3 separate regions of the Homo sapiens genome follow, and regions 1 and 2 are each linked to region 3. Evidence: fine-mapped expression QTL. A gene starts in region 3. Each other region holds a variant in brackets. All regions are shown on one strand. Distances are between the middles of the regions. Region 1 overlaps LINC01331 (long intergenic non-protein coding RNA 1331). Region 2 overlaps LINC01331 (long intergenic non-protein coding RNA 1331). Region 3 holds the start of ENC1 (ectodermal-neural cortex 1).

What was found. PIP is the estimated chance that this variant, and not a neighbour inherited with it, causes the effect. A credible set is the group of variants that fine-mapping cannot tell apart.
Region 1: its variant is the best candidate, but not a certain one, in a credible set for the expression of ENC1 in whole blood (INTERVAL, PIP 0.66).
Region 2: its variant is the best candidate, but not a certain one, in a credible set for the expression of ENC1 in whole blood (TOPMed, PIP 0.66).

What each region holds. Positions count from the first base shown.
Region 1 is chr5:74,509,013-74,516,444 of GRCh38, reverse strand. All of the region lies in intron 2 of LINC01331 (long intergenic non-protein coding RNA 1331), which reads left to right. Among named protein-coding and RNA genes, the nearest start is that of LINC01331, 24 kb to the left of the region's middle. RefSeq lists an enhancer at 1-443. The variant G/A (reference allele first, on the strand shown) is at 4,700.
Region 2 is chr5:74,450,230-74,457,661 of GRCh38, reverse strand. The region is part of intron 2 of LINC01331 (long intergenic non-protein coding RNA 1331); the gene reads left to right. Among named protein-coding and RNA genes, the nearest start is that of LINC01331, 83 kb to the left of the region's middle. The variant T/C (reference allele first, on the strand shown) is at 4,284.
Region 3 is chr5:74,637,798-74,645,229 of GRCh38, reverse strand. ENC1 (ectodermal-neural cortex 1) reads left to right here and starts at 4,502. Exons shown (of 3, transcript NM_003633.4): 1 at 4,502-4,923. It also overlaps a transcript of HEXB not described here. RefSeq lists silencers at 1,592-1,886, 4,394-4,653 and enhancers at 2,803-3,516, 3,517-4,232, 4,694-5,053.

The sequences.
Region 1 (7,432 bases), 130 kb after region 3:
GAGGAGGAGGATGGTTATAGTGGTTCTTACAAATCCCTCAGCTGGATGGCTGGATTTAGGGCTGGGCATTTGTGCTTTCAAGAGCCAGGTCATTCTAAAGGAATGTGAGAAGTGCATCTCTGAGGACAGAGATTAAACAGTGGGAAAATAGATAAGTGATCTGGGGGTCTGTCGACTAATTGCTAGCTAAAAGTTAACATTTCACTAGCTCCTGCTGAGAAGGTAATGGCCAGGCTTCACACATGGAGTTTTATTATGAGAAGAGAGAGTAGCAAGTGTGGGAAGATGAATTTATCATCCCTGCACACACACCACCTCAAAACACACCTGTTTTTTTCTTAAACAGCTCCTTGTTTAGCATTCTTACAAAAGGCATGATAATGTTGGAGGATCAATGTAACATACTGTAAGTGATAAGAAGTCCTAAATGTCCTAAATTTATTAAAGGCCTGTTGTGTCCTGGAAGCTGTACTAAAGCCTATGGAAGATGCAAAGAAGAACAAGGAGTGAGCCTTGGCCTCAAGAGATTTACAATATATTAAAACACCTAAGACACCAAATACGAGTGCTTTTCAGAGTGGTTCTTAGAATCACAGGTCTGTTACAAAAGGAGATTCTTAAGATCCAAAGCAGATGGGACCTAGGAATCTGCCTTTAAAACAAGCCCTCCAGGTAATTCTGATCTACCCTGTGGTTTGAGTAGCATTGGCCCAGAGCAAATGTAGGCTCTAAGCCTGGGGTATAAAGGCTTCAATTCTGTGTTATATAAGCAGTGTAGCCATATCTTGTAGGAGAGCATCAAGGCATATTTGAAAGAAGTGTGCAGCCTATAGGCCTCAAGATGAGAAATATGTGGCAGGTGTGTTTGCAAAGTGGGGGAATTAGCATTGGGAGGGAAAGAATAGCATGACCTTCGTGGTGACCAGTGGAATAAATAAATATAATCCCAATGTTTATGGAACGTCTTGTTGAGTTACTGATGTATTCATCATTAGGGTTTAAACCTAATGCTTTTTAGTGTGCTGTCAGATCAGGAGGGAAATCCAGAGGCTTGCTTCTCCACAAATATTTATCAATGGATGTTTTGGGAATTAAAACATGCCAGGAAATAGGGGCAAAGTACACAAGTGCCTGTCTTTGTGTGGGTAGGTTGTGTAGATTGGGATATTCACTGGATGGAATAGTTGGTGACCTGTATTTATTTGGGGTATTCCTGTTTGTGATGTTGAAGGCTAATTCCTAGGAGAAGAAACTGTGAAATTTGCAAAGAAGAATTTATAGAGGGCCAGTGAGCAGACAGAGGAATGATTGTGTTGGGAACAGGAGGCAGCTTGGGAAGCTCAGGAGTTGTTCTATTCCCTGGCTGTCTCCCCGGAGGACTTTCTGTGGCAGAATCCAGGGCATGTTGTCCAGCCTGGGATCAAGAGGCTAGGAAGGAGGTGTAGGAGTGTAAAGCCTAGAAGTGGACCTATGGCCGAGCAGAATGGTCCCTGCTTTCTGTGACTAAGGCAGCTCAGAGAGTGCTCAATTTAAGCCTGGAGTGGAAGTAGATGAACTTGCTGGAAAGGAGCATGATCCTCTGGTGGGGCTGCGGCAGAGTGGAAACGTGAGGACATGGAAGGAAACTGGTTCATGCTGAAAGCGCAAGTCCCGTTAACTGAATTGCAGAGAACAGTGTCTGTTAGCCTAACCTTGAACCCTGAGATGTTCCTCCACTGCTTTTATGTGACTAGCCATGGGAAAAAGGAGAAATAGAGTCGTAGGCTGGGAGAGTGATAGACTGGGGTGGAAATCTTTGGACAAATCCATTTCTTATTCTCTAGGTAGTAATGGGCCATGAGTTGAGGAGTCAATAGCAAGAACTCATAGGGGAAGACTTTGGTATGTGTTTGGGATTGTGCCTTTGGGAGTTTTTAAAATCCTGAGATGAGGGAACAGACTACTGTGAAGGCATGATGGATCCTGTGAACTGAACTTTTTACTCTGTCCTTGGGACAGTTATAAATTGAATGTTATCCTGGCTGGAAAACAAAGGACACTTAGTTTGCCCCTTTCCTGGCCCCTGATTGGGCACTTTGGCTCAAGGTAGACTGCACTATTTTTGTTTAGTAGCTTCTCCAGGCTGTTCTTTTTGTTACTGTAATAACTAGTTAAAGGTTGTGAAGCATGTTCTCCGACCTGTGTTATAACTCTTGATCCATCTGCAGGGCACTGGGTAACCTCATCCTCCTGGTCCTGGGTTTCTTTTTGGCCCCAAACAAGTGGTGAGGGGATGCTGGGCTCCATCACACCGGAGGTTCAATTTTGCATGGTGAGTAAACAAGCAGAGAAGGCTTAGAAGAGTCCCTTTTCCAGGAGTACCCCACAAGGCTGGTTTGAAGCAAGGCTGGAGCCCCAGAAAGCTGTTCTTTAGCTCCACAGTGGCAGCATGCCCTGTAGGAACCCCTCTGATCCTTTGTGACACTCTTGTTCACAGTCCTGTGAAACGGTGCTCTGTGGGAGACTCTAGTCTGCTAGGAGAGCTCCCTTATTCTCAGCACGGACAGAGGGAAACCATGAAGCAAGGGACCTAATTTATTTTTCAACAACACAACACACCAGTGCATACTCTTCCAAGTAAGTGAGTGTTAGCCCTTTCAAAGTAGCTCCAAAGTGGAGTGAAAATTCCCCCTTGTCCCTCTGTCATTTTCTCCGACTGTATTCAGTGAGGAAAAGTCTTTATGCTTGGAAGGTAAATTGATTCTCAAAGACCATCCACAGTCCTTAGGAGTCAGGTTCAGTAAAAAAAGTAGGCCTAATTGTAATATCCTAATATTATCTTCTTCATGTAAAATGGCTCTGAAAGCAATGACAACAATAATTCCAAAATGATTCCAAAAAATGGCAGCCCAGTTGAAATAATCCTTCAAGATGAATATTTTCATGATAATGTATAAGCCCCTTAGTAATGTGGCTAATCTATTTTTTAAACCTATTTCTCTCATATATATAATTCATATGCCTACTATTATTTGCCAACTAATACTAAATTTATAGTTCTCAGTGAGAATTGTTGTTTATCTAAAACAAACTGTTTCTGTATTTATAAGGTTCTTTACACAAATAAGGTGTTTAAAAAATTGGCTTTGAGCAAACAAAAATGCAGTATGATTTTACTAGAATGATTGCTTTGGTCAGCACAACTATGATGGACTAACAGCTTTTCTTCACTACATGTTGATAGAGTGAGAAGATTTAAAACAAGCATTATGTACATTAGCTGGGACACTTACTATTAGTGACAAATACTAGGAGAGAGGCTCTACTTGAACAGGCTCAAACTTAACTTAAAAATTATTTCTGCCTGTAATGGACCTTTTAGTTGTCTGAGCAATTGAGTGCTTTAAATAACCCCCATACATATCAAGGACATTCTAAATTTTTTTCCTTGGCATTTGGAAATTTCAAGTTAAGGATGCCTGCCCTTGCTCAAGTTACACACTCTTCAACTTGGGCAGTTGAGCAGAATTCAAAAGATAAGATGCGAATGAGTCTATCTATTCATGTCATCACACTTTGCTAAATTGCCAGGCTATTTGATGAAAGGATAGCTCAGTTCTCACTAAACTGCAAGTGGCTTTGGCAGATCTTTAGCTGGAATCCACTGAGGAGCTCTCATTTCTGAACACTGATTGGGAAACCAGTTGTATTTTAAAAGATTCTAACGATTTAGAAGCTCTGAGACCCCTTTAAATCTCTGTTTTGAGAGACCCATTGATTTATAGTAAAATATGAATGTAAGAGATGAACCTGTGGCATCATAACTAAGGGCGCTTGGCACTCTGGAAACTGGCTCAGAAGGTAATCAACATAGAGCTAGAGCCATAGTCTTAGTTTTTGCTGTAGTCAATCAAGCAAAGGGGAAATTTCTACTCAAAAACACATAAATAATTTTGATTTTTTCTGTATTACCTTGAAACTTCAAATGGGCTTATAAATAGGAAGAGAAAATATTGCCAGATGGGTTGTATTCAGTAGTTATTTTTAAATGAAATAAAAAATTATGGCTAAATCTATTGCCTAAAAATTGTGCTGTAAAATATGTAAATAGCCTGTATCATTAAAGCCTTTTCTTCGAGATACAAATAAATGGTTCAGAGTCCAAACTCTTCCTTAAGAGTTCAATTTACTTCTTCAAATTCCTTAAACTTGAGATAGGTTTTGCAGTTAAATACTCCTCATTTGCATGCTTAGTCAGAAGGGAGTATTATATATAGATTATATGGAATCTTAGCCTATTTACAAATAATGAATGTTACTGAAAATATTCTGTCATAGAGACACATGCGTGTGTATGTCCATCACAGCGCTATTCTCAATAGTAAAGACATGGAATCAACCTAAATGGCAATGATAGACCAGATAAAGAAAATGTGGTACAATAACACCATGAAGTACTATGCAACCACAAAAAAAAGAAGATCATGTCCTTTGAAGAAACATGGATGGAGCTGGAGGTTATTATCTTTAGCAAACTAATGCAGCAACAGGAAACCTAATACCACATGTTCTCACTTATAAGTGGGAGTTAAATGATGAGAACACATGGACACATAGAAGGGAACAACACACACTGGGGCCTATCAGAGGATGGAAGGTGGGAGGAGGGAGAGGATCAGGAAAAATAACTCATGGGTACTAGGCTTAATACCTGGGTGAC[G/A]AAATATTTTGTACAACAACTCCCCATGATGCAAGTTTGCCTATATAACTAACCTGCACACATACCCCTGAATTTAAAATAAAAGTTAAAAAAGGACACATTATACAAACGATGTCAAAGGAAGTTTTGAAAACAAAAGTTACTCATGACCCCACTACCCCAGCATATTTTTTTATTTTTATGTATTATCTTCCAATTATTATTCATGTACATTCATATTCTTATGTACTTGCAATCATTATATGCACCATTTTATAGTCTACATTTTCATTTAGGATATCTGTGCTGGTTATTGGTTATATTATTGAGAATATTCAAAAAATACAAGAAAAATAAACAGGATGTTTGAAACTCATAAGATGTGTTAAGCACACATTGCTGTGTAAGCAAGTAGCTCATGTGATATAGGCAAAACTCACTAGCTGTGTTAGGCATGCAGATAAAGAAGAAGCAAGCAGACTGTGCAATGTGGGCAAAATATAGGTAGTGGGTATATGTTAAATATAGGTAGTGGGTAACCTGAAAGATGTGTTAAGAATGGAATGGAATATATAATGGAACAAATAAGATGAATACTTTTAGATAAAGAAGAAACAGAAAGATTAAATCATATGATTTGGTCACTTCTGGGATGACAGCTATGCCATCCCTAAATTGGCACCTAATAGGAACATCCATTATACCCACTATGGGCCCATATGTACTTGACCCCAAAAATGCAAATAAAAATCTATAGTTGCTCAGCAGGCTGTTTGGCAAGTTACAGCTATAGCCAGCTTTACTTGCCCTCAGATCTCTGTGGAGTATGAGCACATCTTAGCTCCAAGCACATTACATTTGCTGGGCCTCTTTTTTTAAACCTCATTTTGGGTCCTTATAACCACATCAGTAGCAGAGGAGGCTCATGTGGAGGAGAAAGAGACAAGGCATATGAACAATTGTGTAAGTAGGAATCAGGCAGTGTGGTCCTCCCAGTTGGCTTATATTTACCTTACCCTAAGTGTGTTAACCTAGCCTGTCTAGTTCCCCTTACATCTTGCCATGTGTTTTAAATAAATTTAATACATTGTGCAATATCAGCATCTTATTGCAAATATGTGAGTCTGTGACTCTTTCTATTCCATGACCCTGGGATAGCCTGCCCGGTAGTGTACTAGGAGGCTGCCATATGACAAGGGCTAGCAAATGAGCTAGGTAACTTGAAGGGAGGAGAAAGAGAGTTATTAGGGTTTTAAACTGGGCTTAAGGGTATAAATCAACTGAATAACATGAGACTGTACCTGGCACTCATCGGAGGCCATTTGTGCCAAAGACCCTTGGCTCTGCAAGCCAAAAAGTGCCGACTAACCAACTGTTTTTTTCCTATAATGGAGAAAGCCCAAGAGAAGGGAAAGAGGGAAGAGTTGTGTCCTAGAAGCTGTATCTTTAAAAAACAAAATGCTTCCATTAAAGTGTTGTAATTGAACATACTTCAGAATAGACAGTGTGAACCAAGCATGATTTGCTGCTTATAATAAACTAGGATAGATCAAACATTTGAAGTTACCTCCTAATCAGGGATTCATACTCTAGGGTAGTAAGTGAGCATTTGAAAGACCCTAATTTGGAATTCATACCCAGAGGCCATTACCATAAGTAGACTTTAAATAGGCCCATCTAGATCTGCCTTAGAGAATTTGTTAATTCTTATAAGGGATGCTAGAAATTTTTTATTGGGGAGCTGAATGACATTCTATTTATGTGCATTGAGTAGAAATATTCAATTGCATGAACAGAAGACAAGACTCTGGTAAGTCCAAAAGCCTAATACCCTTTGGAGTGGTGGGATACTTGGTTTAGAGCTTCAGTCTAGTCCAGTGTTCTGCCACTTGATAGATGCTTCTGTCACCTAATCCAAATAGAATATTAGCTTAATCTTGCCACTAGAATATGGCCACATCTACCTCAGGTAAACTTTTCATGGAAAGTGTTTGCTGACATGCTTAAAGGACAGAGAAGCAGGAGCTCACCCATTAAAAGAACAGATTACATGACTTTTTTGGCCTGTTTGTTAATAAATGTTTACATGTGTGCTGAAAGGTAGCTTGATACTTGTTGTTATTATAATATATTGTCAAGAACTGTGAATGGTCTGAGACTTAGCCCTACTTACAAGTTAACAAGGTGGTCTGCCATAGTTTCATGGATGTTGGTAGAAGACATGAGACTCTTCAGTCAGAGATGAAGGACAGTTTATCCCTCACAGCAAAAGCAGTAGCCAGAGTATTAGCATTTTTGTCCCAGTTCCTCAAGCCTCAATCCCCAAAGTGTGATGGGAAGGCCAGGTGACACCAATACATGGAGTGGATTATGTTACAGGAGATGACCCCTTCATTGAGGGAAACGGGATCTTATATATCTTATAATGGGAAGCAAACTCTGGAGAGAGACACTCTGTCTTCCAAGATTATTCACTATACAAACACTTTTGAAAAGGTAGTCCAGAACAAAGGCAGTCAATGTCTTGCTAACAAGACATGCAGAAAGTGAGGGAATCATGGAGAATTGTCTCTAGGTCCATTTTCTGTTGTTTATAACAGAATACCTTGAAATTGTGTAATTTATAAGGAATGAAATTTATTTCTTACTGTTCTGGAGGCTGGGAAGTCCAAGGTCAAGGAGGGACACCTGGTGAGAGCCTTCTTGCTGGTGGGGACTCTCTGCAGAGTCCTGAGGTGGTGCAGGTATCACATA
Region 2 (7,432 bases), 190 kb after region 3:
ACTAGGCCAGGCACGGCGGCTCATGCCTGTAATCCAAGCAGTTTGGGAGGCCGAGGTGGGCAGATCACTTGAGTCCAGGAGTTAGAAACCATCCTAGGTAACATGGGGAAACCCTGTCTCTACAAAAAAATAAATATACACACACAAAAAATCAGCCAGGTGTGGTGGCACGCACCTGTAGTTCCAGCTAGTTGGGAGGCTGAGGTGGGAGGATAATTTGAGCCTGGCAGTAAGCCAAGATCATGCCACTACACTCCAGCCTGGGTGCAGATCATGTCTCAAGGAAAGAAAACAAACAAACAAACAAACAAACCACTATACAAATTCTTTAAACTTCAGATAGATATTTCTTTTATTCTGTCTCTAAAAAATGCAATAAAAGCCTCAGTTCATCAGGCACCATAATTTCTTAAAAACATTTTGACAGACATTTTTTCAGAGATGGCTTTGATATCTATGGAGTATTTAGGATCTTGTATGGTAGAAAATGGAGTTAAACATGGAGGAGATTCTAAGATTTTCACATAGAAACATTCTGATCCATGCCGTCTAAGAGTAAAATACCAACACGTTCATGGTAATGTTGAGCTCCTGGCTTAGCAGTTTGGATCTGAGCAGCAGAGTTCCAGGAGAGCATGTGGCTTTTTAAGTACATATGGGTTAAGCGTTTAAAGCATTGAGTGAGTATCAGCTACTGTGTAGGGCTCTGCCCTACCTCAGCAGTAGTGTAGTGGACAAAGCCCTTGTTATGGTTTGCATTTGTGTCCCCACCCAAATCTCATGTCGAGTTGTAATCCCCACATGTCGGGGGGGACCTGGTGGGAGGTGATTGGGTCATGGGGGTGGATTTCCCCATTGCTGTTTTCTGTGATAGTGAGTGGGTTCTCATGAGATCTGGTTGTTTAAAAGTGTGTGGCATTTCCCTTTCTCTCTCTTTCTCCCCCATGTAAGACATGCTTACTCAGTCTTAGTTAGTTCTCTATAGAAGTGTGAGAATGGACTGATAACAGCACTGAACTTGGAATCCCTGGGTTCAAGTCCTGGCAGCTCCTTACTAACTACTGACTTGAGAAGATTCCTCTCTGAGCTGTGGTCCCCTCATCAGGAGAATGGCAATACTCTATTCAAAGGGTTATCATGAAGATTAAATGACATAATGTGGATGAAAATATTTGATAAACTGTGGAGTTCTATACAATATCACGTATTACAGTTGTGTTAACCCTGTTAGAAGCAGGTGTGGCTAAGAATTGATAGAGTTTAACTACACACATTCCTACCCTGGACATTCTCACCTATCAATGTATGGCAAGTCTGCCCCACCCCTCCTTCTCTGCCCTGCTATGTTGATTTGATAGCAATTATGGGGCATCAGTCTTATGAAATCATATTAGGTCTTGTAACGTCACCAAAGGGACTCCAAGTCAGGATAGGTACAGGCCTAGGGTTCCAGAGGGTTGATAATTATTTTTACTCCAAATTGTGAACTGATATATTTTTCAAGAACCAGAGGTAAGAAAGTTAGATTCAAAAGTAAGAACATGTCACCTGGTTGGAGGTAGAAGAGAGAAAATTCCACCCTTGTGGCATCTGAGCATGGAGCCCTGACAGAATGGGGGGCATGTGAAGACCTATGCTTTGTTCTTGGCACTAAAGAGCCAGTCTCTTGGGCTCCTTGGCAGGAATGAACTGTAGCATTTGTTGGGGCAGAGAGAATATTTAAATGGAGTTAGTTTCAATTTCTCAATTTCTTGTCACTAGGGATGGGTAAGCCAGTAGTGCTCTATGTTTTCAGAAAGCCTTGACTTATTTTTCAAGCATTTTGGGTTTGGCTAAATTTTACATTTGTTTTGCCAGCTTTCTTTTCTTAATTATTAATATTAAACCCATGTGCATAAATCTGAATGGAAATTTAATAGCCATTTTTATATTTGTTTACACTCAGTTCATCCAAAACTGTGTTGACTAAAAGCTGTTATATCTTATAAGAATTCCTTGAAATTTATAAAAATTTCTCTTCATAATATGTCACACTTATGTCCTCACTCCCTACACACAAAAAATTGGATTTGGGGATGGTTATGATGGAATTCCAGTTCCAAATGCATGATTCTTGTGACAGGGTCCGAATAATACAAGTGAGTTTTCACCATCTTTTTCACAGTTGACTTTGAGGCAGTTGTTTTGGTAAACCCCCAAATGAATTTTCTTTCTTTTATTTTCTTTGTAAGACAAAGTCTCACTTTGTCACCCAGGCTGAGGTGCAGTGGTGTGATCACACCTCACTACAGCCTTGACCTTTCGGGCTCAAGCAATCCTCCCACCTCAGCCACCCAAATAGCTGGGACAACAGGTGCATACCATGATGTCCTGCTAATTTTTGTATTTTTTTTTTTTTTTTTTTTGAGACAGAGTCTTGCTCTGTTGCCCAGGCTTGGGGTGCAATGGCGTGATCTCAGCTCACTGCAACCTCTGCCTCCTGGGTTCAAGCGATTCTTCTGCCTCAGCCTCCTGAGTAGCTGGGATTACAGGTGTGCGCCACCACGCACCAGCTAATTCTTGTGTTTTTAGTAGAGACGGGGTTTCACCATGTTGGTCAGGCTGGTCTCGAACTCCTGACCTCATGATCTGCCCACCTCAGTCTCCCAAAGTGCTAGGATTACAGGCGTGAGCCACCATGCCTGGCTAATTTTTGTATTTTTTGTAGAGCAGGTGTTTCACCATGTTGTTCAGGCTGCTCTCAAACTCCTGGGCTCAAACGATCTGCCTGCCTCAGACTCCCAAAGTGCTAGGATTACAGGCGTGAGCCACGGCACCTGGCCTCCAAATGAACTTTTGACAAAGCACATGCTATTTTAGAATACATTATTGCCCATCCCTAGGCCTTTCACACAGTTGCCAGACCTATGGAAAAGCAATTTCTGTGACCCAGCATTTTTTCCCCCAAGTATAGCACACAAATTGGCTCTGGGGAGTAGGAGATGAGTAAAGAGTAATGGTAATTTCCAAATAATTCTTATCGTCTCATTGCCCAGTAATCCATCCGTGTCTCTCTTAGGTTTTGTATGGTACTAACTACACCAGCAATGTTGATGTAAAGGAAAACACATTATTTTGTTAATGATAGAATCATGGTGTTATTTTGTTATGGTCACAAGGTACTATTCTATTCATAACAGTTTGTTCTCAGATGACAGCTGGAGTTGGACCTGGAGTTACTAATATTAGAGGTGGGGGTGGGAGAGGAAGGAGGTTTAGTGATTGTCCAGTTCTGGGCGGAGAGATCTTTATTACCAGAAGGTCTGAAATAATAAATGAAACAAATATAAACCTGGCCATATGGTAGATATATAAATGCATTTGAATTAATAAATTTAATCTTAAAGATTAAGCATTTTTATGCCTAAAGAATTATAAGCATTAAATTGAATTACATAGCCAGAAAAATAGTACAGTTGTTTATTCTTAGGTTGTTCTCTCCTGTCCTTTGTCCACAGAACAGAGCTGTGTCTCCTTGAATTGAGAATTAATTTTGTACTTTATCTCAGTTAATACAATTTTAAATGTAAATACTGTACTTTAATGAGCATAAGATTGGAGGGTGGAAAAGGGATCCAAAATCGTTAGATAGTTGGTCATAATTTATGAAGTTGTTTGCCTTAGAAGGTGCACTGTTTACTTTTTTTTTTTCTTTTGATAGAGACAGGGTCTCACTATATTGTTCAGGCTGGTCTTGAACTCCTAGCCTTAGCAGATCCTCCCCCTTGGCCTCACAGAGTGCTGGGATTACAGGTGTGAGCCACTGCATCCAACCTGTTTTTATTTTTTAATTAAACCTTCTATTTTGAGATAATTATAGGTTTACATGCAGTTGTAATAAATAATAACAGAAAGAAAGGGCATTATCAAGATGGCTGACCAGAGGCACCCAGCACTCATCTCCTCCACAGGCAAAACAACAAATAGATAACTGCATATCAAATAGAGTGTCTAGGGGAGAACAGTGGAATTCAGCAACCAAGTGACAAACACCCTCCACGTGGCTCTTAATATCATCTATTTATTTACTATGTCTTTCTATTTTCTTGACAAAACTCTTATGTTTCATTTGTTTCAAGTGTGTTTGTAACTGCTCATTGAGGCATTTTACGATGGCTGCCTTAAAAATCTTTGTCAGATAAAGCTCTTTGACAGAGATGTTAGATATCTCCGTTCACTCAATGTTGGCATCTTTTTATTGTCTTTTTAAATTCAGTTTAAGAACTTCCTGATTCTTGGTGTCA[T/C]GAGTGATTTTTGATGGAAACCCGGACATTCTGGGTCTCATGCTATGAGACTGTGAATTTTAAACCTTGTGTTTTGGCTTGCTTCCTCGGCCACCACTCAAACAAGGAGAGGGGAAGAAGCACCTCAGTACCGGCTGATGGGGAGAGAAGTTGCTATAGTTTGGATGTTTGTTTCCCCAAACCTCATGTTGAAATTTGACCTGAATGCTGGAGGTGGTTTCCCTACTGGGACGGGTTTGGGTCATGGGGGTGGATCCCTCATGAAGAGACTGATTCTCTCCCCCGGGTCGGGAGGTGAGTGAGTTCTCCTTCTGTTAGTTCCTGAGAGAGAGAGCTGGTTGTTAAAAACAGCCTGACACCTCTCTCCTCTCTTTCACTTCCTCTCTCACCATGGGATCTCTGCACATGCTGACTCTGCTTTGCCTCCCACCATGAGTGGAAGCAGCCTGAGGCTCTCATCCGAAACAGATGCTGGCATCATGCTTCTTGTACAGCCTGCAGAATCATGAGCCAAATAAACCTCTTTTCTGTATAAATTACCCAGCTTCAGGTATTCTTTTATAGAGCAACACAAACACACTAAGATAGAAGTCTGGGTTCCTCACAGGCATCTATTAAACACTTGTGGGGGGTCTCCTTGTGTTAGTCCATTTTGCATTGCTATAAAGGAATACCTGAGGCTGGGTAATTTATTAAGAAAAGGAGTTCATTTGGCTCATGGTGCTGCAGGCTGTACAAGCATGGTGCTGGTATCTGCCCAGCTTTTACTGAGGCTTCAGGAAGCTTTTACTCATGATGGAAGGTGAAAGGGGAGCAGGCATGTCACATGGAGAGAGAGGGAGTCAGAGAGAGAGGGGAGTAGATGCCAGGCTCCTTTTAACAACCAGCTCTCGAATGAACTAATAGAGGTGACAACTCACTCATATCCACGGGGGTGGCACCAAGCCATTCATGAAGGATCCACCTCCATGATCCAATACCTCCAACTAGGCTCCACCTCCAACACTGGGGATCACATTTCAACATGAGAGTTAGAGGGGGCAAACATCTAAACCATATCCCTTCTCATAACTGCTGGGCAGGCCTGGGAGCTCCAGCACTTTACCTGGCTTCTCTGACACTGCCTGGCTGGGAGGGGTAGTAGGCATGCTTTGTTATTGCTCCCTGTGTGGCTTCCACTGACAGCACAGGAGGGGAGGTCGCCTTGTTACCACTCGTGACAATGGTAATGATGAGCATCCTGACTCTCCACCAGGTTTATGGCAGTAGTCTATCAGGGAAAGAGGAATGACTTACTGTTGCTGAGTGAGGGTAGTAGTTCAAGTTCCCCATGTGGTCTCTATATTTTGGAGTAAGGGTGGGACATGTTAAAAATCAGCAGGGATGAAAGTCCTGGCTCCCTTCTTAGTGCATGCTTGTCTTAGTCTGCTTTGTGTTGCTATAACAGAAAACTACAGACTGGGTAATTTATAAAGAAAATAAATTTATTTTTCACAATTCTAGGGGCTGGGAAATCCTTATAGGGGACCTTGAGTGGCCAGTGTCTGGTGAGGGTTTCCTTATTAAGCCACCTCATGGTGGGAGGGCAAAGAGACAGCAAAGAAAAGCAAGATGAGGAACTTGCAGCTTCAAGCCCATTGATAATCAGCATTAATCTGTTTGTGAGGTTGGAGCTCTCATGATCTAAACACCTCCCATTGGGCCCCAACCCCCAAAACTGTTAGATTGGGGATTAAGTTTTCCACACCTACTTTTTGGGATGAGCGGATTCAAGCTATAGCAGCCTCCCATAACAGGCTCCAGAGGGTAAAAATCTAGGCTTTCCCTGAGCCTTTGTTGGCATGACTGAAGCTGGGGACATACTTTTTCTGTGGTTGTATCAGGGCAGTTATTGTCTAAAAGTCTTCTGTCTTACAAGGCTGTCTAATTCCTAGTCTTTTGGCTAAAGTGAGCAAGCTTTTGTTGGGGTTTTGTTTTTGCTTTTGCCTTTTTGCCTGTGATCGATGGCATTTATGGTTGCCAGCTTCTTTATCTCCAATGCTTGGATATATGAAGCAAAAAGACATCCCAGAAAACTTCCCACCATTTTGTTTTTTCAGTCTCCCAACAGTTCCTAACAGTTCTGTCTTTTTTTCACCTTTAAGAGTCTTCTATGTTTGTTTTATACATAACAGCCAGGCTTTTTTGTTGTACTTAGTGGGAGGAATAGGGAAAAGTATATCTACTCCACCTTCCCATGTTCCCATTTTAAACAGAAAGGGAGAGATGAAATTGATGTCAGGGAAAAAAGTATGTTTTTCTTCCTATTGATTGGGAAACACAAGTTTTGTTTATTTTTAACTGTCATTCTTGAGTCAAACATTTAATAAAACTGTTATTGCCTTCCACACTCCCTCTACAGCTACAAAAGCTTACATGTTTTATTTTTCACCAAGGTTGGTCATTTGTAGCTTTGCACATGTCAGCCAGCCCTAGCAGAGGAAAACACTGGAAGATAGTGTCACAGCCTTTGGGAAGGCTCATATTTTCTGATAGCTCTCATTTCTTCGGCCGTCTGTGTCTTCACCCTTCACAGACATTGTAGTTTATCAGCAATTTTGTTTTATCACCCAACACAGGAAAGGATTTTGCTTGGCAACACGTTTATCATGAATAACATTTCAGGTCCATTAAAAATGATTATTATCGCCAAAGCTCTATTTTGAAGACCGTTTTTTAACTTTGCTATTAGCTTTGCCTTGAAAAATTGCATTTACACATTCACACACACATACACAGATGTGGAGGCTCCAGCGTAAAAACTGGCTGTTAGCATTCACATTTTATTGAACCAATAAATTGTGAGTTTAACATTTTAGTCAAATTGAATGCCAAGTGTTTCATTTCAGACTCTAGTGTCCATATTGACAGGACTTTAAATCCACTACGTGTGCATCTGGAGCTTGTTAGATGTTTATAGTTTGAATGGAGCCAAATGTCAATGGCACCTTTGGTCTATGGAGAGACCCAGAGGAGCAGGCAGTTACTCTGCCTCTGTGAGGCAGGAACAGGCACCAGAGGGCCAGCTCCTCACTGATTCACAGTGTGCAAGAAAGGCCTTGGCCAATGGGAGATTGGTTGGGTTTATAGTTACATGGTTCCTCATAATT
Region 3 (7,432 bases):
TTAGCACGGGCTCACCTCTAAAAACAATCATACTATACAATCCAGCTTAATTCACAAAATACACATAAGGTGACACACATAATGGATGTAGGAAGCAACTGAAATGTTAAAATATGATCAAACCAATTCGGATGCAATCTTAAGAATACTCCTAAGGAGGCCAGGAGTGGTGGCTCACACCTGTAATCCCAGCACTTTGGGAGGCTGACATGGGTGGATCACCTGAGGTCAGGAGTTCGAGACCAGCTTGGTCAACATGATGGACCCCTGTCTGTACTAAAAATACAAAAATTAGCCGGATGTGGTGGCAGGCGCCTGTAGTCCCATTTACTTGAGAGGCTGAGGCAGGAGAATTGCTTGAATCTGAGAGGGGGAGGTTGTAGTGAGCCGAGATTGCGCCACTGCACTCCAGCCTGGGCAACAGAGTGAGACTCTGTCTCAAAAAAAAAAAAAAAAAAAAAAAAAGGAAAAAAAAGAGGAAGAATACTCTCAAGGTTTATCATGACAGATATTTAACATAAACATAACTTTTTTTAACGCACAAAGATAGAAGATGGCAAACCAAAATTTAGAAAACTATCGATTTAGACCCTTTGTCTTCCCCAGACAAAAAAGTGATAACTGTTTTATAAAATGCTGATAATTTCTTGTATCGATTACCTGTGTTTTTCCTTATTCTCATCTCTTTAATAAACAGCCAGACTTTCCTCTCTCTCTCTTTTTAAAAATAAGAGGATTGCTGATGGAAGCTGAGGTCTCATTTTCCTAGGTTTGTATATCTGTATTCTCACTGTTCTGAGGTCTTCAGATCCTCCTTTGGGAATGGAGGGCTTATTCCTCCAGCCTCTGTGTGTGCTGGCAGCTCCCTCAGCAAAAGAGCACCACCTTGCCCAAAGCCATGGTCCCTTCCCTGGGCAAGCTGCATTCAGCAACTGGGTGATGTAGCCCTATAAAAGCCTTCTTGCCCTAAATGCAGACAACCTGTGAGGCCATTTCAGCTCCAGAGGTCCCCATGGCGTCAGCCAAGGCTTGGCTGAGACCACATCCCAGCTCAGCATCTCCATCTGTCCACCCTGCTTCCCTCCCTTCCCCTTCAGGGATGTTGATCGCAACATATGTGCTACTGGGAGGTGTGGTCCCTGACTGGGCGTCCACTTCCCAACACGAACTTGACACTATGGAAGGGGAGCACAAATCTTTGGTGGGCAGTTGGCCCCTCTGCCACACTCTGTCTCCAGGACACAGCCTTGAAGTCCATCTAGCAAATAACTCGGGGAAGGAAAGCTGTGCTATCTTCCTTGCACAGATTCAGAAAGTGTCCTCATAAAACAAAGAGGGCGCTTTTGGAATACCAGCAGGGAACATGTCTGAATTTGGGTGGGGCTTCAGGAGACCACCGGAGGCAGGATGGCAGCTGCTTAGCCTACTGTTTGGTCTAATTCCCTGAGCTGTCCTGTCCCTGGTACCATGATCGCACCGTGTTAATTAAATCATTCTCATTAATTCAGCCCAAGTGTAAATTAGGAAGGAATGAAGATAAATTAGGTTTGAAGGCAGCTAATACATTTAACCGCATGCTGCTTATTTTGCGGCCTAACAAAATAACATTGTTAGGGGAGATAACAAGCCCAAAGCCTTGGGCACAGCTTCTTAATAGCATTAAAAAATGAGACTTTGGTTTGATGTCACAAGACAGAGGCAAAGACCTGCTCCCAAGGGCCTACAGGACTGGCCTAATGTCTTGTGTGAAGTGTTGGCTATTGTGTAATGCGGATACAGTGTAAGCAGCATTTCCTGACTTGTTTGTGACTCAGATATCTGCTATGTCTATGGTCGTCCAGTTTTGATGACAGCCCTGTTTAGAAGTTTCTTCCTGTACAAAATGAAGACTTGCTCAGCTTTTCTTTGTGTGAGTGGGGTGATAAGAGTTACCTTTAGGATTGGCTGAGAGATGCTGTGGGATTACACCGTTTGAATTGCTATGATCATAAATTTGCTAACTTGCAAATCATTTTCAGCTGAGATAAGCATTAAAAACTGCCCAACTGCCCGAAAACTAGTCATAGATTGGCTCAAGCAAACCAGAGTACAGTTTGTAGGAGGTCATCAGTAGCACCCATGATTTCCAAACTTGCAAGTTTAGTTCTTGTGACTTTCAGCAGGAAAATGTTTTCCAGTTTTTAGGACTTACATAAGCTAATTTCTTTTCTCTTGTATTGCTTATCTCCCCGAGGCAGATGAAGCGAATGTATACGGTCACTGAATGCATTTCAAGATTTTCCAGTCTACAGCTTTTTTTCCCTTTCTTCTATTGAAGCATAGAAAGTGGCAACATTAGGTAGAAAAGATACAGGAAAGTGGCACCAGCGGATGGTGACACAATGGCCAGCGGATTTCTTTCCTTTCTCAGCCCTGCCTGCTTAGCAAAGTTCTTTGCAAAGGGATCTGAACTTTGCTGTTCCCTTGGTTAAGGACATCCCGCAATTTCTAGGTGGTAAAGATACATACCTGTCCCTAGTTCTGTCGCTTCCTGTGGCAAAATCCCCAACCAACCAGCTGAGCTATGTACATAGTCCATTTCTAGGCAAGGTCATCTAGGTGCCGTTTTAGGTAGATTTGACTCACAAAGGAAGCAGACAGAGTGGGTCTAGGAGGTGTCTAAAAGGTGCGTTGGTGGCTGCCTTGATGAGCTCCCCCACACCTTGCCACAGGCTACAGAAACATGTTTTAAAAAGACATATGTGCAATAGTTACACATTTCCGCCTCCCATCTTTTCAGCACCTATCTCTGGAGTCTACAGAGTTTCCATCTGTCTGGTCTTTGCTTCAGAACCTGGGTGCTGCTTGCCAGCCCTCTCCTAACCTCGCAGCCCCCCTGGCTCTCCATACGTGGTTCTTGACATGAATTGATCCGGGCTGTCTCTGTGAATCAGCCTCAAGCCGAGACTCTGCATTAAAAAATATATATATTGAAAGGTTCGTGGTGAGGCTGCCGAGTTAATGCTAACAAAGGACTTCAGAGGGCACTGTCTTTCTTTGTTTGCAAGGAGCGAAATTTCTCGGCGCAAATACCAGGAAGGAACAAGGATAAAGGAAAATGAAATTAGAATGAAGAACTGACAGTCTTGGTTTCAGCAGTCTGGACTCTGGAAGCGCCATGTGGGGCCTCCTTAGCCAGTTTAAATCGCTCCTGCGCCTAGTGTTTTAAAGCAAGCTGGGAGGCGAAGCGCGGGCGCTTGGGGACGCGGGGACCCGGGGACGGAATAAACTCTGTCGTGGGGCCCTCACTCTCGAGCTGCAGAGCTGGGACATTGTTGCTAAGTGACTACGAGCCAGGCAATTCACATCTCCCTGGGCCTCGGTTCCCCACCTGTAAAACAAGGGGGCTGGACCGGTCATCTATCCCGTTCATTTATAGACTTAGCTCCAAATACCGAATAAAAGACAGATATTTTAACTCCCAGTGGAAAGACAAGCCTCTAGTTGCAAAGATAAATGGGATTCGTAAAAGTGATCACCACGCGAGATTATTTTTCGAATCGCCTTCCCTTCTCCTGACACGCGGGACTATTAAACGTGTGTGTGTGCTGGGCCATTTCTTTACTGAACTCCAAACTAACACCACCGAGCGATAAAAAACAGGAGAAGGTGATGGAGGCTTAATCGCTAGGAGAGGAGGCGGCGTGGCTGCTGCTTTGAGGAGTTCACTTTGAATCAAGCGGCCGCGGCGATTGGCTGAAAAGCACGTGGTGCGCGCCCCGCAGGACTGCGCCCCGGCTGCCCCTGCAGTCGCCTGGCTTAGGGCAGAGTCCAGCCGGGGGTGCCGCACCCACTGGGGAGTGGGGAGGGAGGACACATAGGAAATGCCTGGGGCTGGAGTCTCTTTGGCTCTCTGCCAGCAAGAAACTTAAACGTCCTGGCTTGCTCAACCCGAGTGTCCCTAAACTGTCCAGACTTTTGCCCGTCCATTGCCACTATCTCTCCCCACTCTGGGTGTCCTACCCAAGGCGCTGTCTATGCGTGCCCAGGGCCTGTCCTGCGGATACCCAGCTCGCCCCTTGCAGCCCTTTTTAGAGCATCTCGCGGGCTCTGGCATCACCAAGCGCACAGCCCCGGGCTGCGCTCCCCTAAGGTGGGTCCCTCAGATCCGGGGCTGTCCATTAACCAGGCTGGCCCAAAGAGGCGCAGACACTCGAACCCGGGAAAACTTATTTTATTCTCGGTTCCCGGGGTTGCAGCTGCCAGCGGCTGAGACAGTGCGTCCGCTTTGTCTCTCTGCACTCCCCGCAGCCCCCCTCTCCCGCTTCCTCTCCCGATTAACTCCCCCGACACGCTCTTCTCTAGCTCCTCTCCTCCTCCCACTCCTTCTCCTCCTCTTCCTCCTCCTACACCACAGGCCGCGCTAATGCGCTTCCTCCCTCCCCCGGTGTCGGTCTCTTTGCATACGCGCCCCCTCCCCTCCCCGCCGCGCCACTTATAGCGGGGCGCACGGCGGCGGGGCGCAGACTGCTCTGGCAGCCGGAGAGGAGGCGGTGCGGCGGTGGCGCTGCGGAGACCCGGTCCAGACGCCTGGCGGCCGCCGGCACACAAGGCGCTTTCTAGCTCCCTCCCCCGAGCGCACAGCCCGCCTCCTTCCGCGGCGCCTGCAGTGGCAGGCTTGCTCTGCCCTACCGTGACGCGCTCCGGAGACGCTCTGCGGGTCCTGGACACCGGGTCCGCGGCGTGGGGACGACAGACGGAGGCGAACGCCATCGGTAGCCGGTCCGCGAGCCATCGTTCGGGGCGCAGTCCTCTCCCCGGCTGGCCCTCCTTTCTCCGGGGCATTCGCCACCGCTTCCCTGGGCTGAGACGACCGGTTCGTCGCCTCCTTGCCCGTGACCGTCGCTAGAACTCAGTTGTGCGTTGCGGCCAGTCGCCACTGCTGTAAGTTTCCCCCACTGCCCCGGACCTGTTGCAGGCGCTGCGGGCTTCAGGGGCTGCTTCGGCTGCAGGGGTGTGTTCGCGAGGGGTGAGCGTGCTCCGAGCACTCGGGAGCTTCGACTAGAGGGCAAGGGGAGCTCTTCTCGGTGCGGAGATCACGGTGCCCGCCGCTGCCCTCCCACAGCAGGCAGAAGCCGGGCATCGCCGGAGAGGTCGACCGGCCTCCCCTCCGCGGTGCAATGTCTGGGGCGAGCCGCTGGGGAAGCGAGGAGCCGAGCTAAGGATACAGTCAGCCTCTCTCCTCTGCGGAAAGCAGCGCTTTCCTGGGGGTGAATGTCGCGCTGCGTCGCTCCCCGCAGCCTCCAGGGCCGAGCGCGCGGGATGGTTGGCCCACGTTGCATCCTCCCCGGCTTGGAGGAAAGTTGGGGCCATGCACAGACACCCTGAGTGCGGGCATGTTCACTGCGGCGGAAATGTCTATAGAGAATGAATGAAAACTGCTTTCTGAAAAACTAGTTTCTTGATCTGTCGTGTTAACATTATTAGTTACAAAGGATAGGAATTGGTGGGCCTGGAGATGAAACACTGAATTTATCCACATGCGGTTTGGTGTCACACAGGCATGGCCAGCTTGTTAAATAGCGTTGCAAGTGTTAATAAAAAGACTCTGGCAAGAAGCTACTTTTGTTAACAAGATCTTTATAATGTTCTATTGTTACCGGTAATGTAAATGCCCAGAAAAAAATCTGCTTAGTTTCTCTTTTGATTGGATTGAGATCAGGTTCAAAACCTGGAGAAGGGTGCGGGACGCTAAGCATTGGAGGCAGAGAGCCTGAGTTAGGAGCATGAAGTGAACTGAAGTTACTGTAACTGAAGCCCTTTTGATGTTCACAGTAATAGCAGCCCTTTCTCTGTCTTCTTTGCAGACGTAGGTTAAGTACATGTGTGCATTTTCTTGGCCACTTACTTGGTATGCAAATGTGATTTCTCTGGGGGCTTAAAAATGCTCGAAAGATGATTCATTTTATGTTGAAGGTGTGTTCAGTGACTTGTATACATGGTTTCTGCTGATATTTTGAGGTTTGCACAGTTTTAAACCAGAAAGCAAGTATTTCCTCTTGGGTTTCCAAGTTTACTTTTTATTTTAATCAAACATTGTTGCAAGAATGTTGATTGTGATTTTGACTGTGACGTGCTTTTCCATCTGGGTGGTATCCAAGATGACAGGCTAGGCTCTTCCTTCTGGCTTGTTGGGCCAACCTGGAACATACAGGAGCATAAACACAGGATGCGGAGAGATGTAGATCCTATATCCTAAGGTCTTCTAAGCAAATTGTTTTCTTAGGTGTAAGTCTGGTTGTGAATGTTGTTTTGCACCATCCTGAATTTAATGTTCAAGGAAATGTGTTCTGGGCCTAGCATGATTCCAGCTCAATGTGTAAGCATTTTGGTGCCTGTGCACCTAGTTTCAGGGAGCCTCATTCTTCCTTCACTCAGGGCAGCATTTGCTCTGAGAGAGGCGGCAGATTCACAAGAGTAAGTAGACAGTCTATTGAGGTTTAGGTTTAAAGTCTTCCTCCAGATACTCCAGATTGAATGTACTAATTAAAATAGCAACTACAGTGGTGGAGCATTGAGAATGCTAATGAATGTTTTAACCCTTTGGAAACCTGATGCATTCCCATAGGTTCATATGGTCATTCTCCAAAACACTGGGCATTGGTTAGAATGGAGTAGACAGTAGATGCTTAGCTTGAGGTGGGAGTGAAGCTGGCTCCTCACCATTTTTTATATCTCAAGTCACTGTGGAAATTACTGGGTGCTTTGTAAAGTCTTCCTAACACTGGAGCTCTAGGACTTTGTTGCTTCCTTTCTTCCACTCAGCCATGTTTACTCATCATAAAAAATTATATTCCAAAAAGGAAAGAAAACTAGTTGCATCACCTAATGGTATGAGGTATATGTGTCATGCCCCTGCCTTTGTGGTTTTCTGTGCAGTCTTATAGTGGGGCTCACATCTGGTTGGGGAGGTGCAGGTTAGTATTTTAGCCCATGAATCTGTGGCAAATCATTCATTTGCATTTATTAATAATTCTTAGAATATGCATTTAAAAATGTCTGAATGGTTAAAGGAAACAGAGTTTCAGCTGCGCTTTTGGGACTGGCTGTTATGTGTCTGGAACAGATACTGCAACCAGCCACACAGTTTACCCTCTGGGGATAAACAGCGGGATAAACAGCTTCCTTAGGAATCCTTGGACAGGCAGGTTCTTGAGGACTTCATTCCTTTGAAGTAACAGAGGGATGGTGTAAAAGAAAAGGATGAAGGCATGTGATTCAGTTTTTGAAGATGGGTGACAAGCATTTCCTATGTCTCTACCCTACTGTTTTCTTACTGAAGAAAACCAAAAGATAGCATTAGATTCTACTATAATTTCAATGTAGATACCAAGGAAAGCACTGTAGTCAGCAAATAAATTCTGGGGTGGCCCTAAATTAACAACAGCTGGCA